Linked DNA regions of Homo sapiens: regions 1, 2 and 4 are each linked to region 3. Evidence: fine-mapped expression QTL. A gene starts in region 3. Each other region holds a variant in brackets. All regions are shown on one strand. Distances are from middle to middle.

Region 1 (2,686 bases), 41 kb before region 3:
CCTTTGTGCTTGGCAGTTCTGGCCCTCGGCACAGCAAGACCAGCACTAGAGACACAAGCACTGAGGTTCCCTTCTCCAAAGATCAAGTTACAGAACACATTCTCTGGCTCACCTTGAAGAACAAAGACTTGAGAAAAGCAGCCTGCCTGGGGATGAGGAGGCGGCTGCCTGCTTGATGTAATTTCAGGGTCTCTGGAAAAATCTCTTGAGCTCCAAATATTTTCCTGCTATAAACCTGAGAATGCCATCATTGGAGACTCAATCTTTTTACATTTGGAGCAGTGGTTCTCAAAGTGAGGTCTGTCTCTGCCCCATCCCATCCCCAGCAGCATCTGCATGACTTGGGAGTTTATTAGAAATGCAAATTCTTGGGCCCCCACCGCAGACCCCCTGAATCAGAATCTGGAGGAGGGAGTATCTGTGTTTAACTGGCCCTGTGGGTGATTCTGACGCCTTAGTAACCCCACAGAAGGGCACGTCACCCAGGAGGGGGGTACTCATCAGCATTATAGCTCTGATTTACTGCTCAGCTTGATGGACTGTGAGGAGGTGCAGAAAGGGACAGGGACAGGGGAGGGGAGGGAATGTCTTGTCTGGTGTAGAGCAGTCAGACAACCTGGCATCGACTCCTAGCTCCTCCTTCTCCCTCTGTGGCCCTGGGCAAATTACTTCATCTTTTCAGCTTTCCTTTGCTCCACTGCAAAATTCAGCTTGTGCAACCAACTCACAGGGCTGAAGATGAAATGAGATATAGAAAGTACTTTGCACATAATAGGCGCTTAAAGAGTGAGCAGTTGCTCTCTCCAACTCACCCCTACATCCTCTCTGATAGAGAAGAGGTCTATGCTGATTGGCATATGGTAGAAGGGAAGGTACCAGAGGTGGGGATTCATGTATCATAAAGGCATGGACCAGGAAAGAAAGGGGCTAGAAGTGGATGAGATGTCAAGACACAGAAAGGGGAGGAGAAATGAGAATAAGGAGCTCCCCTAGACTCAACTCATCTGGTTTCTTCCATTTTGCAGGGGGTGGTCCTAAGACCAGGGTCTCATAACCTGTGGCCCAGTCTCACCACCACCCTTTCCAGATGGTGGGTAGGGCTGATTCTTTGCTTACCTTCCTCCTACCTCATTCTAACCTTTTCAGGTGCATGACTTAAAGGTCTGAAGTTTCCCTGCAGGGAGATGACTGGTGGAAATATGCAAATGGTGAGCTTTATGGCAACTCAGGATCTTTAGGGTTAAGAAGAGAGCTGACAGTTGG[T/C]ACAGAGGCCACCATGGTGACCTGACCCTTGCTCAGACACAGCCAACAGGCAGGAAGCAGAGAGCGTCTTAAGAGAAGGAGAAACAGATGTGTGTGCCCCAGAACAGCATGCTTCCCTTTCTTTTAAAGCCTTCACATGATGTCTTGAGCCTTTGATGGCAGAGCAAATTAAGATCTCAGTCTCACTAGGAAGGCTCACATCATATGGCTCTGGGGCAATTCTACCCCCATTTCCCTATCTCTCCATTGCCAGGAATTTCAGAGTCAGTGTTTCATCATTTATGTAAGGGCTTAATCCCTATGAGAATTTTCATCTCCATTAAGCTGTGTTCTGGGCTTGGGTTAGTCAGTCTGGATTCAAATCCCAGCTCTACCATTTGTTAGTTGTTATATTCTGGGTTAAATATTTAAACTCTTCGAGCCTCACTTTCTGCCTTTGTAAAATAGGGACAGCGTTTTATACACACACACACGCACAGACACACATATACATATATATGCTCGTTATTTCAAGGGTTAAACATGTACAGTGCTATTTGGATTTCTTATGAATATATTTCTTTAAAGCTACAAAAAGAGTGGGAGGAGTAAAGACTGAAGGGAATGGTTGAGATCGGGGATGGCTAATAGGTCTCACCTACGAATGTGGGTGGATTCAGAGGTGCCCCAGGTACACTGCATTGTCAGTTTGTGAAGAATCCCAAGGCAGCTGACTGCAGTCTTGGCAGACAGCATGTGACAGTGTGGAAATGTCTGCTCCAATGTGGGCAGGGTCCTGAAAGCATGTGCAAGCCACATTTGCCATCTCTGCTCTAGTTGCTTCCTGCCTGAAGGCAAAAAGACAGGCTGTGACTCTTGCAATTACCTGAGTAGAATTATAGAAGCCATTACCTGGGATCTTCAAAGGCTCCCACAGAGAGAGTAACTTAGCCTCTTAATTGAACACAGCCTCCCAGTATCATTCTGGAACGTTGGAGCTGTCCCCAGTCACAAGGCACAGCCTTCTTAATCTGATAATAGTGTACTCTCCAGGAGGGAGAAGAGAACTCCCTCTGTAGTAGCACCAGACACAGTGCAGTGACACACTGTGAACCAGAAAGATCTTGAAGATGGTTTCATCAGGGTGGGGTGAGTGTTGGGAACCCAGGGGTGGGTGGGACTTAAAGGAATCGAGCACCCCAGGGGAGCCTGAGCTCTAACTCCGTGGCTATTTTGGATATCAATTGCTGCTTTTGTGTGTTTCCCAGCTGGACGTCTGTGAGGCTTGCAGGTGTTTTACATTATTAATCAGCTAGATCTTTTTTCTTCCTAATAATCTAGCCTCCTTCCATACCTGTGAAAGCCCTTTGAAAAACAGGCAGCAGTGCATACATTCAGTGTTTAATGGAAGGGGCAGGGCAGGGCCCACGTTTCCATTAAGCAC
Region 2 (2,686 bases), 130 kb after region 3:
TAATCCACATGGCTCATCAGATGGGGGTGTTAGATGGAAGCTTTTACACTTGGATTTTTACAACAGAACCAAAATAAACTGCGTAGGGTAGGTGTGAGACAAGCTGGACCCAAAGGGACTCTCTAATACAAGTGTCAGAAACTGCCCCCAAAATAACTGCACAAAAATGTTTAAGGAGGAAGAAACCCCAGCGGGACAGGTGGCAATGAATGCAAGGTCAGCCTTTAATTCCTGAAGTGACAAGCAAGTCACTTGCCCTTTTAGGATCTTACTGTTCCTAGAATAGCTAATAGATTTCCGTGGTCCCTTCTGGTTTAATGTATGAAATGGACTAGAAGTACTCTATATTTCCCAAAAGAACAGTGGACAAAATGCCTGCTCCCCACATTATCTGAATATTCACCATTTTTGCCTCAAAGGCACGATCCTGTAAGAGCCTCCAGATTGGCTGGTTGAAGTGAATAGGAGTCCTGTTTTGAACATTAGCTATAGGATATATGTGGTGGTGAATTCAGAGCATATATGTTCAAGGAAGAATTATATCTATATTTAATTTTTGAAAATCTAAATGTACTCTCTGATTACTAAGAGAAGTGGTACTAAGAACCGTGTGAAACCTACTGGGTAATTCACGCCCAGGCTTGCCATGGCTGGGGGCCAGTGGGCCTCAGAGCGGGAGACAGCAACTGAGAACACAAACTTTGGGCCAGTCCTGATTTGAGATCCAGCTGTGTGATCTTGTAGACGTCACAGCCTCAACTTTCCAATCTATAAAATGGGATGGTGATAGACATGGAGTTTGGTGAGTACCACATGAGATACTGATCCTGCAAAGCTCTTGGCACCTAGCTTGTAGCAAGAGCTTGGTAAACATTGGCTGTTATTATCACTTTAAATCCTCTTATCAAAGTGAAGCCTTCCCTTCCCATGGAATGTTTTGTGTAAATCTGACTTCCACACCCTGAGCAGACTGGGTATGTCATAGGGTTCTTTGGCCTGCCCTGAGCTGCCCCACAGCCAGCAAGTCCAGCCCAGGCCCCAGGAGAGCAGCCAGGGAGAACTTCCTACGTCTTTTGAGCTGGGTGGGAACAGAGAACACAGCAAGGCTTCCTCAAGCCTTTCCTGAGAACACAACTTCAAAACGTCCACACCCAGATGTTAAGAAAGCCCCAGGCCCAGTGCCAGCCCCCTCCTCCCTGGAGTCAGCA[C/T]CCTGTCTCAGCCCTAGAAGAGTCCATAGCCCTCCAGCCTGCTGCAGAGGAGGCTCAGGAGAGCGGCTGGTCACCTCTCTCCTCCCCAATCTCAGGGGGAAGACCCAGAAACAGAAGGTAGAAGGCCTGTGCCCTTGGCTGAGACCACCTGGGTTCAGCTCTCATACAAGCTGTGGCCCCTTGGCCCCCTTCTTACTCTTTCAAAGTATCCCCATCTGACCCTACAGATAATCCTTTTTTTTTTTTTTTTTTTGAGATGGGGTCTCACTCTGTCACCCAGGCTGGAGTGCAATGGCATGATTTCGGCTCACTGTGACCTCCGCCTCCCCGGTACGAGTGATTCTCCTACCTCAGCCTCCGAGTAGCTGGGATTACAGGCGCATACCACCACACCCAGCTAATTTTGGTATTTTTGGTAGAGACAGGGTTTCACCATGTTGGCCAGGCTAGTTTCAAACTCCTGACCTCAGGCGATCCACCCACCTTGGCCTCCCAAAGTGCTGGGATTATAGGCATGAGCCACCGCACCAGCCCAGATATTCTTAATATGGAGTAAAATACCGCCCAGAGAAAGTGAGGCTTGGAGCCTGAGTTGCCTGTAAGCTCTGCACGACTGTCTGCCCCTTCCTGCATTGCACAAAGGAGAGTGCACTGAGCTAGGAAGGCTGGTGGTCCTGTGGGTGGCTGTGTGGGGAAGGGGTCAGCTACGGGTGGTGAGCTCAGGGCCTTTCCTTGCCCATAATAAAATAGCTGTCACCGGCCGGGCATGGTGGCTCACGCCTGTAATCCCGGCACTTTGGGAGGCCAAGGCGGGAGGATCACTTGAGGTTAGGAGTTTGAGACCAGCCTGGCCAACATGGTGAAACCCTGTCTCTACTGAAAATACAAAAAATAAATCAGCCAGGCCTCTGGGTGAGCGCCTTTTGTCTCAGCTACTTGGGAGGCTGAGGCACGACAATCGCTTGAACCCAGGAGGCAGAGGTTGCAGTGAGCCAGGAGATCATGCCGCTGCATTCCAGCCTGGGTGACAGAGCGAGACTCTGACTCAAAAATAAATAAATAAATAAAATAAAATAGCTGTCACCCTGGCTGCAGTGTAGGCTTCTTTCAAATGCAAACACTCCAGAAAGACAGTCCATGTGAGGATCCATGCTCAGGTACACCTGTGCTGGAATAGGTGCATTCAAGAGGCTTCTCTGGATGTACAAGAAATTATTATCATTATTATTTCTTCATATAAAATATTTATTGCACAAACAATATTATAACACCACCACAAATAAAAAAAAATTACAATCCCCCAAACCTAGTAAATGGGCATTGGTTTTCTTTTTACTTTTGCAATTCCCCTCCATCTCTCATTCATACATACACAATTTTCTCATAGCTGGGCTCCAGCGCAATGCAATTTGCACCGAACACCATATCATCAGCATTTCTCCACGTTGCCACAGTCTTCACTATTAGCTTTTAACATG
Region 3 (2,686 bases):
TCCCAAGGTGCTGGGATTACAGGCATGAGCCACAGTGCTCAGCAGCAAATATAATGTTTCCCAAGAAGTGTGATTCCTAGGAGAAAGGAGAAGGTAGTTTGGGTGGAAGAGATTGGGTGGCTTTGTTCTGTTCAAAGGATGGGCGAGACTATGTTTGTGGGAGAAAGATTTAGGTTAGAGGAAGAAATTAATAATGGGGAAAGAAAGAATAGCTGAATAAAATCTGGGAATGGCTGGGATCCAGGGCACAGGTGCAAGATTTAACCTTGAGGAGAAAGGGCACTTCTTGCTGTGGGTGAGGGAGTGAAGAGGGTAAGATGAATGAAGGTACAGGATAGGCATAATAATGAAGAGCCTGGATTTAAGGGTGAAGCCACTGGCTCACATTATAGAGGAAAGGCTAGGAAAGCCGAATTTTCTGGGGCCAGGTCCAGATTTAATATATTTAAGTATAACAGTCTTAATTCATTCCTTTCACCTTATTCAGTGCCCTGGGTGTGCCAAATACTACTGGGCACTGGGGTCTACAAAGGTACGACTTTTCATGTAATGTTGGAATTTGTTATGTTGGTAACTCGAGATTTGCATATATTTAACAGTCTTAATTCATTCCTTTCACATTATTCAGTGCCCTGGGTGTGCCAAATACTACTGGGCACTGGGGTCTATAAAGGTACGACTTTTCATTAATTTTGGAATTTGTTATGTTGGTAACTCGAGATTTGCTTTTCATTCTTCTGGAAGGCTGTATGTAGAAATAAATACAGTCATCAGACGAGTTCTTTGTCAGACCAGATGTCCTGGGTTGGGGTTTGGAAAACATGGGCATCTTAACAATGGTGCCCTGTTTGAGGTGGAGAGGGAGGAGAGGCCCAAATCGGGGAAAGGAATTAAATGGAGGTTTAGACGCGGGTAACCGGAGTGGGTGGGCCTTCAACCTGGAAGATGGGAATCCCCAGCGCACTTCGGGCAGCGCTGTAACCAAGGGTAACCGCACCTCGGTTTACACCGGTGTGAAGACCAGCCTCTTCCCCAAACCAGGTGTATCTACGGCGGCCTAGCAGGACCACACACAAGCCAAGCACGTCACGTCATTCGAGCTACCTTACCGCGAAAGTCCACTGCCTCCTACTACTTCTGGTCACTACTACCTTTGCTCACAGTTTATTAAGGAGGAGCGGAGAAGAAGAGGGGCGGAGAAGGGGCGGGGAGAATCACCTTTCCTTTTTTACAATTGGTCGTAGTAGACTCCGAGTCCTGCCGCCCGTCCTGCAGCCGACAGGCTGCCAGGACTGTCACTCGAGGAGCTGCCGCTACCGCCCCCCGCCGTGGCCCCGCCCCTTGCCGTGGCTGGGATCTCGCGGGAAGAGCTGCGGGCACGGCGGTGGCTCGGTCTCCCGGCTGCGCGCGGAGCGGGAGGGCTCTCCTCACACAAGCGCTTCCTTGCCGAGAGGCTGGAGCTGCGGCACCGCAGGCCTGAGCCACCCCTTCTCTGCTGTCTCCTTCTCTTCCTCAGGGCTCCCGTGTCTGCTCGCCCTCCGACGCTGCTCAGGTTAGAAAGCCCGGAGCGCGTCTCCGCTGAGGAGCGGTCGGGGAGCGGGGACACGGAGCAGCCGGAGCAGGCGGGCTCCTGACGGGGGCGGCTCTGGGGGCTGCGCGGCGCTGCCTGGTGGGCGCGAGGCTTGGCGGGGTTTGGGAGTCCGGGGGGCGAGGAGGCGGTGCAGTGGGATCCGGGCGCGGGCGCCCAAGGGCGGTGTAGCGGGTGCCGGAGCTCCCGAGGTGAGGGGGCAATGTATTAGGGATCCTGGGGGCTCTTCCGGCTTGGGGTAGGGGTGGGTGGCGGCACACGGGGTCCTAGGTCTTTGACGTCGAGGGAGATTTATCAGGGTCTTGAGCTTCTTGGAGGTGGTGTAGCGGGGTTCCGGGACAAGGGGTCTTTTTACCCGGGTCCCGAGCTCTTTGGGGCAGAGAATGCAGTTTAGCAAGGTTTACACCGGTGTAAACCTTGTCTCTGGAGGCAGATCATCGGGGTCTTGGGGGTTCTTTGAGCGGGCGTGGGCGTCCGTTTCGCATTGCTGGGATGAAGAAGCAGTGTGTCCGGGTTCTGGGGAGAGGGGTCTGTTCATCGGTGTCTCCGGGTGAGAGAGCGATGTATCCGTTCCGCTGGGGCCGGGGCCGCCTTGGGGGGTTGTTGGGGGCTGAGGGTGTGTAGCGGCGACCAGCGTCTGGCCGGGGTTTCTGCTTTGCCCGGAGCGGGGCGGTAACTTGGCATGGTCTCCAGTCTTTTGGGGGCGACGGGGCGAGTTAGCTGGCCCCCGGGCAGTCTCTCGGGGTGGGCGCGGCTCCGCAGGCGCTGGGTCCGCTGAGGGCGGGAGAGGGCTTTGGTGCTACCGCGCAGGCTGGGCAGCATCCTGAAACGTTTTTGTTCAGGTCTCCTTCTCTCTGGATGAGATTTACTCAATGCTTAGTTGGAGGATTGATCGGTGTTGTTGCCTAGTTGAAGAAGCAGTGCGTTTGTTCTGCAGTTTTCTTTTCTCTGCCCCGGGATCCCTGTGGGGGCGCGCTGGTCTCGCTGGAGCTCCGGGAGCTAGAGTGGCAGCACCTTAGGTGGGCGTTTGGTCTGCAGGTTCTTTAGGAGGCCGGTGTCCGCAGGTTGAGCGTGGATACAGCTCCTGAGCAACTGGAA
Region 4 (2,686 bases), 220 kb after region 3:
AGTGCCTCAGTCCTTCCTGCTCCCTGCTCCGGTGCCTGATATGATAGCATTTACCTTCATCTCCGGTCTTGGAGACTTTCCAGGTCTTCCAGGAGCCCTGGTTAAAATGTCACTAGTTTGAGCAAGTCAACCTCTCTGAGCCTCTCATTTTCCTACCTGCAAAGCAGGAGTGATGGTCCGCACCTCCCCAAGGGTTGCTGTGAGGGTTTGGGGAGAAAACATTGGTAGAGGCATCTGCCACAGAGTTGTGGGTGTTCCGTAATCATTCTGGGAACCACGACAACTGGGAGGCACTTGGTCAGGCAGCCTGTAGATGGAGCCAGCTAAGAGCAAAGCTCTGGGAAGCCTGTATGCAGAAATGGAAGTGGCCAGGGAAGCGAAGAGGGGCCTTGCTGAGAAAGGTGGGGGATGAAGGCCAATGTCACACACTGCACACCTTTGCTTAAGGAATGGAGGATGGAGACAGGGTCAAAGCACCAAATCACAGTGGATCTGAGCTGGAAGAACTCAGAGGCCATTCAAGCCACTGTCCCACTCAGACCACCACTGGTCGATGTAGACACAGCCGAGAGACGGGGTGGCGTCCTTACGTCATGCAGGGGCGCCGTGGCACAGGCTGGTCACTGGACTCCCTCCAGTCATGTTGAGAAGAGATGAGGAGTGTGCCATGAGTGGAGATGGGCCCAGGCTCCCCGCACAGGGGCAGCCAGCCTGAGTAGAAGTCAGATGACAGACCCGGGGCCAAAATGCAGGGGCAGGCTGTTTGGTTCCAGCAGCCAGCTCAGTGGAGAGGGGAGAGAGCTCAGTCTGGTGTGGACTAGGGTGATCTGTAAAGGAGTGTGGCAGCCCTGGGCCTGCGGACTGGGCAGGGGTGGCAGCACAGCCCTGCTCCAGGGGCCATTTGTCATTTTTAAAAGTATACATGCTTACAAATTATAACCCTTCAGAAGGGAATAGAGTCAGGCTCTGCCACTGGCCCCAGTTCTCCTCCCTGGAGTGGCCAGGGGGACCTGCTTCCTATGCGTCCTCCTGGAGCTTTTCTGGGGGACCCAGGAGCATCTGTGCTGTGAGCATCCACAGCATCTGCCTCTTTCCCTGCTGCCTTCCTCTTACTTCCCTCCCTTGGAGATCTCACTCTGTCAGCATCTGCAATCTGCATGTCTCCTGGACTTTGGAACATCTGCTTGGTGTTCCATTTTCTGGATGAATCATGGTTGATTTAGGCTGTTTTGAGATTTGAGCTGCTAAAAGGGTACCAGCCTGTCCATCCCTGCTTGTGGGTCTTGCACTCCATGCATGGATCCCTGTAGGGTGATTTTTTGCTATGTTACAGCTGAGCCAAGCTGGGTGAGCCGCACCCCCATCACCTCCAGCACTGCCTATGCACTTCTACACGGTGCCAGGCTCTCAGAGATGATCCTGACTGAGCAACAGAGAGTAGCAGGAAGGACTTGGGGAGGTCTGGATCAAGATGCCCTAAGGAAATGGGACCACTGAAAAATTGAAATAACTGAAGGATACATTTTGAGAAACAGCAAATAGCTTAAGCTTTACTTC[C/T]CGCTGGGACAAAATTAAAAAGTCCACAAGTGTAGCTGGAAGGATTTAGCAATGTTCCTTCAGCTCCTGCATATGAAAAGCTTTGTAGAGTCTCCTCCCTTGGAGGAGTTAGTGAGAAAGGGAGCCAGCTCTCTAGGAGTGATTTGTGGAAGCGAGGTGCTCTGCAGGCGGGACCTCATGCGTGGATTGTAGGCCAGGCAGACCTGGTGAAGAATTTTGAAGTGTCTCTGCATAGAGATCTAGGCTCTGCTAAGAGTCAGCTGTGGGACTAGCTATTCCGAAAAGTGATTGTACTCTTAGTGGAGGAACAGTGTGGAGGAGGAGGGAGAAAATAGTTCTCTTGGCCTCGGCTTGCAAGGCTCCACCTGGGGCATTGCTTCTATTTGAGGAGCCTTCCTACAAGAGGGACATAGACAAACTACATGGAGGAAGGACAAACCACGGGGATGGTGGTAACGCCACATTTAGATCCTGCGAGGAATGGCTGAAGGAACCGGGAGTATTTAATGTGAAGTTCAAGGAGGTGGGAGGGGGTTAGAAAGACTGCCTTGAAATATTTGACAGGCGGCCGGGCGCAGTGGCTTATGCCTATAATCCCAGTACTCTGGGAGGCTGAGGCAGGCAGACCACAAGGTCAGGAGATCGAGACCATCCTGGCCAACATGGTGAAACGCTGTCTCTACTAAAAATACAAAAGTTAGCCAGGCGTGGTGGAGGGTGCCTGTAGTCCCAGCTACTTGGGAGGCTGAGACAGGAGAATCACTTGAACCCAGGAGGCAGAGGTTGCAGAGAGCCGAGATCGTGCCACTGCACTCCAGCCTGGTGACAGAGCAAGACTCTGTCTCAAAAAAAAAAAAAAGCATATATATATATATATATATATATATATATATATATATATATATATGTATGTATGTATATATGTATGTATATGTGTATATATATATGTGTGTATATATATGTGTATATATATGTGACCATATATATATATATATATATGACCATATATATATATATATATATATATATATATATATATATATATGCATATGTTAAGCTTGTTTTCTATGATCCTGGTGGAGGGAACTAAGGCCAATCAAATGGAGATAGATTCCAGGAGGACAGATTT

Which allele goes with the higher level. Alleles are on the strand shown, and positions count from the first base shown. SD is a standard deviation of normalised expression in the study named. Not every link is listed here.
In carriers of allele T in region 1, the expression in subcutaneous fat of the gene that starts at base 1,430 in region 3 tends to be lower than with C alone (small effect, 0.33 SD a copy in FUSION).
For the expression in esophagus muscle of the gene that starts at base 1,430 in region 3, C is the low allele of the variant in region 2 and T is the other (moderate effect, 0.70 SD a copy in GTEx).

The links. PIP is the estimated chance that this variant, and not a neighbour inherited with it, causes the effect.
Region 1: its variant is the best candidate, but not a certain one, in a credible set for the expression of GLCE in subcutaneous fat (FUSION, PIP 0.64).
Region 2: its variant is the best candidate, but not a certain one, in a credible set for the expression of GLCE in esophagus muscle (GTEx, PIP 0.82).
Region 4: its variant is the best candidate, but not a certain one, in a credible set for the expression of GLCE in whole blood (INTERVAL, PIP 0.84).

What each region holds. Positions count from the first base shown.
Region 1 is chr15:69,117,713-69,120,398 of GRCh38, forward strand. No RefSeq gene overlaps it. Among named protein-coding and RNA genes, the nearest start is that of EWSAT1, 38 kb to the left of the region's middle. RefSeq lists enhancers at 1-379, 1,949-2,686. The variant T/C (reference allele first, on the strand shown) is at 1,264.
Region 2 is chr15:69,289,887-69,292,572 of GRCh38, forward strand. All of the region lies in intron 1 of PAQR5-DT (PAQR5 divergent transcript), which reads right to left. Among named protein-coding and RNA genes, the nearest start is that of PAQR5-DT, 7.5 kb to the right of the region's middle. The variant C/T (reference allele first, on the strand shown) is at 1,209.
Region 3 is chr15:69,159,206-69,161,891 of GRCh38, forward strand. It overlaps GLCE (glucuronic acid epimerase), which reads left to right and starts at 1,430. Exons shown (of 5, transcript NM_015554.3): 1 at 1,430-1,552. It also overlaps the pseudogene LOC100421574. RefSeq lists an enhancer at 1,092-1,592 and silencers at 1,290-1,499, 1,700-1,809.
Region 4 is chr15:69,380,242-69,382,927 of GRCh38, forward strand. The region is part of intron 4 of PAQR5 (progestin and adipoQ receptor family member 5); the gene reads left to right. Among named protein-coding and RNA genes, the nearest start is that of KIF23, 33 kb to the right of the region's middle. RefSeq lists a silencer at 1,248-1,429. The variant C/T (reference allele first, on the strand shown) is at 1,558.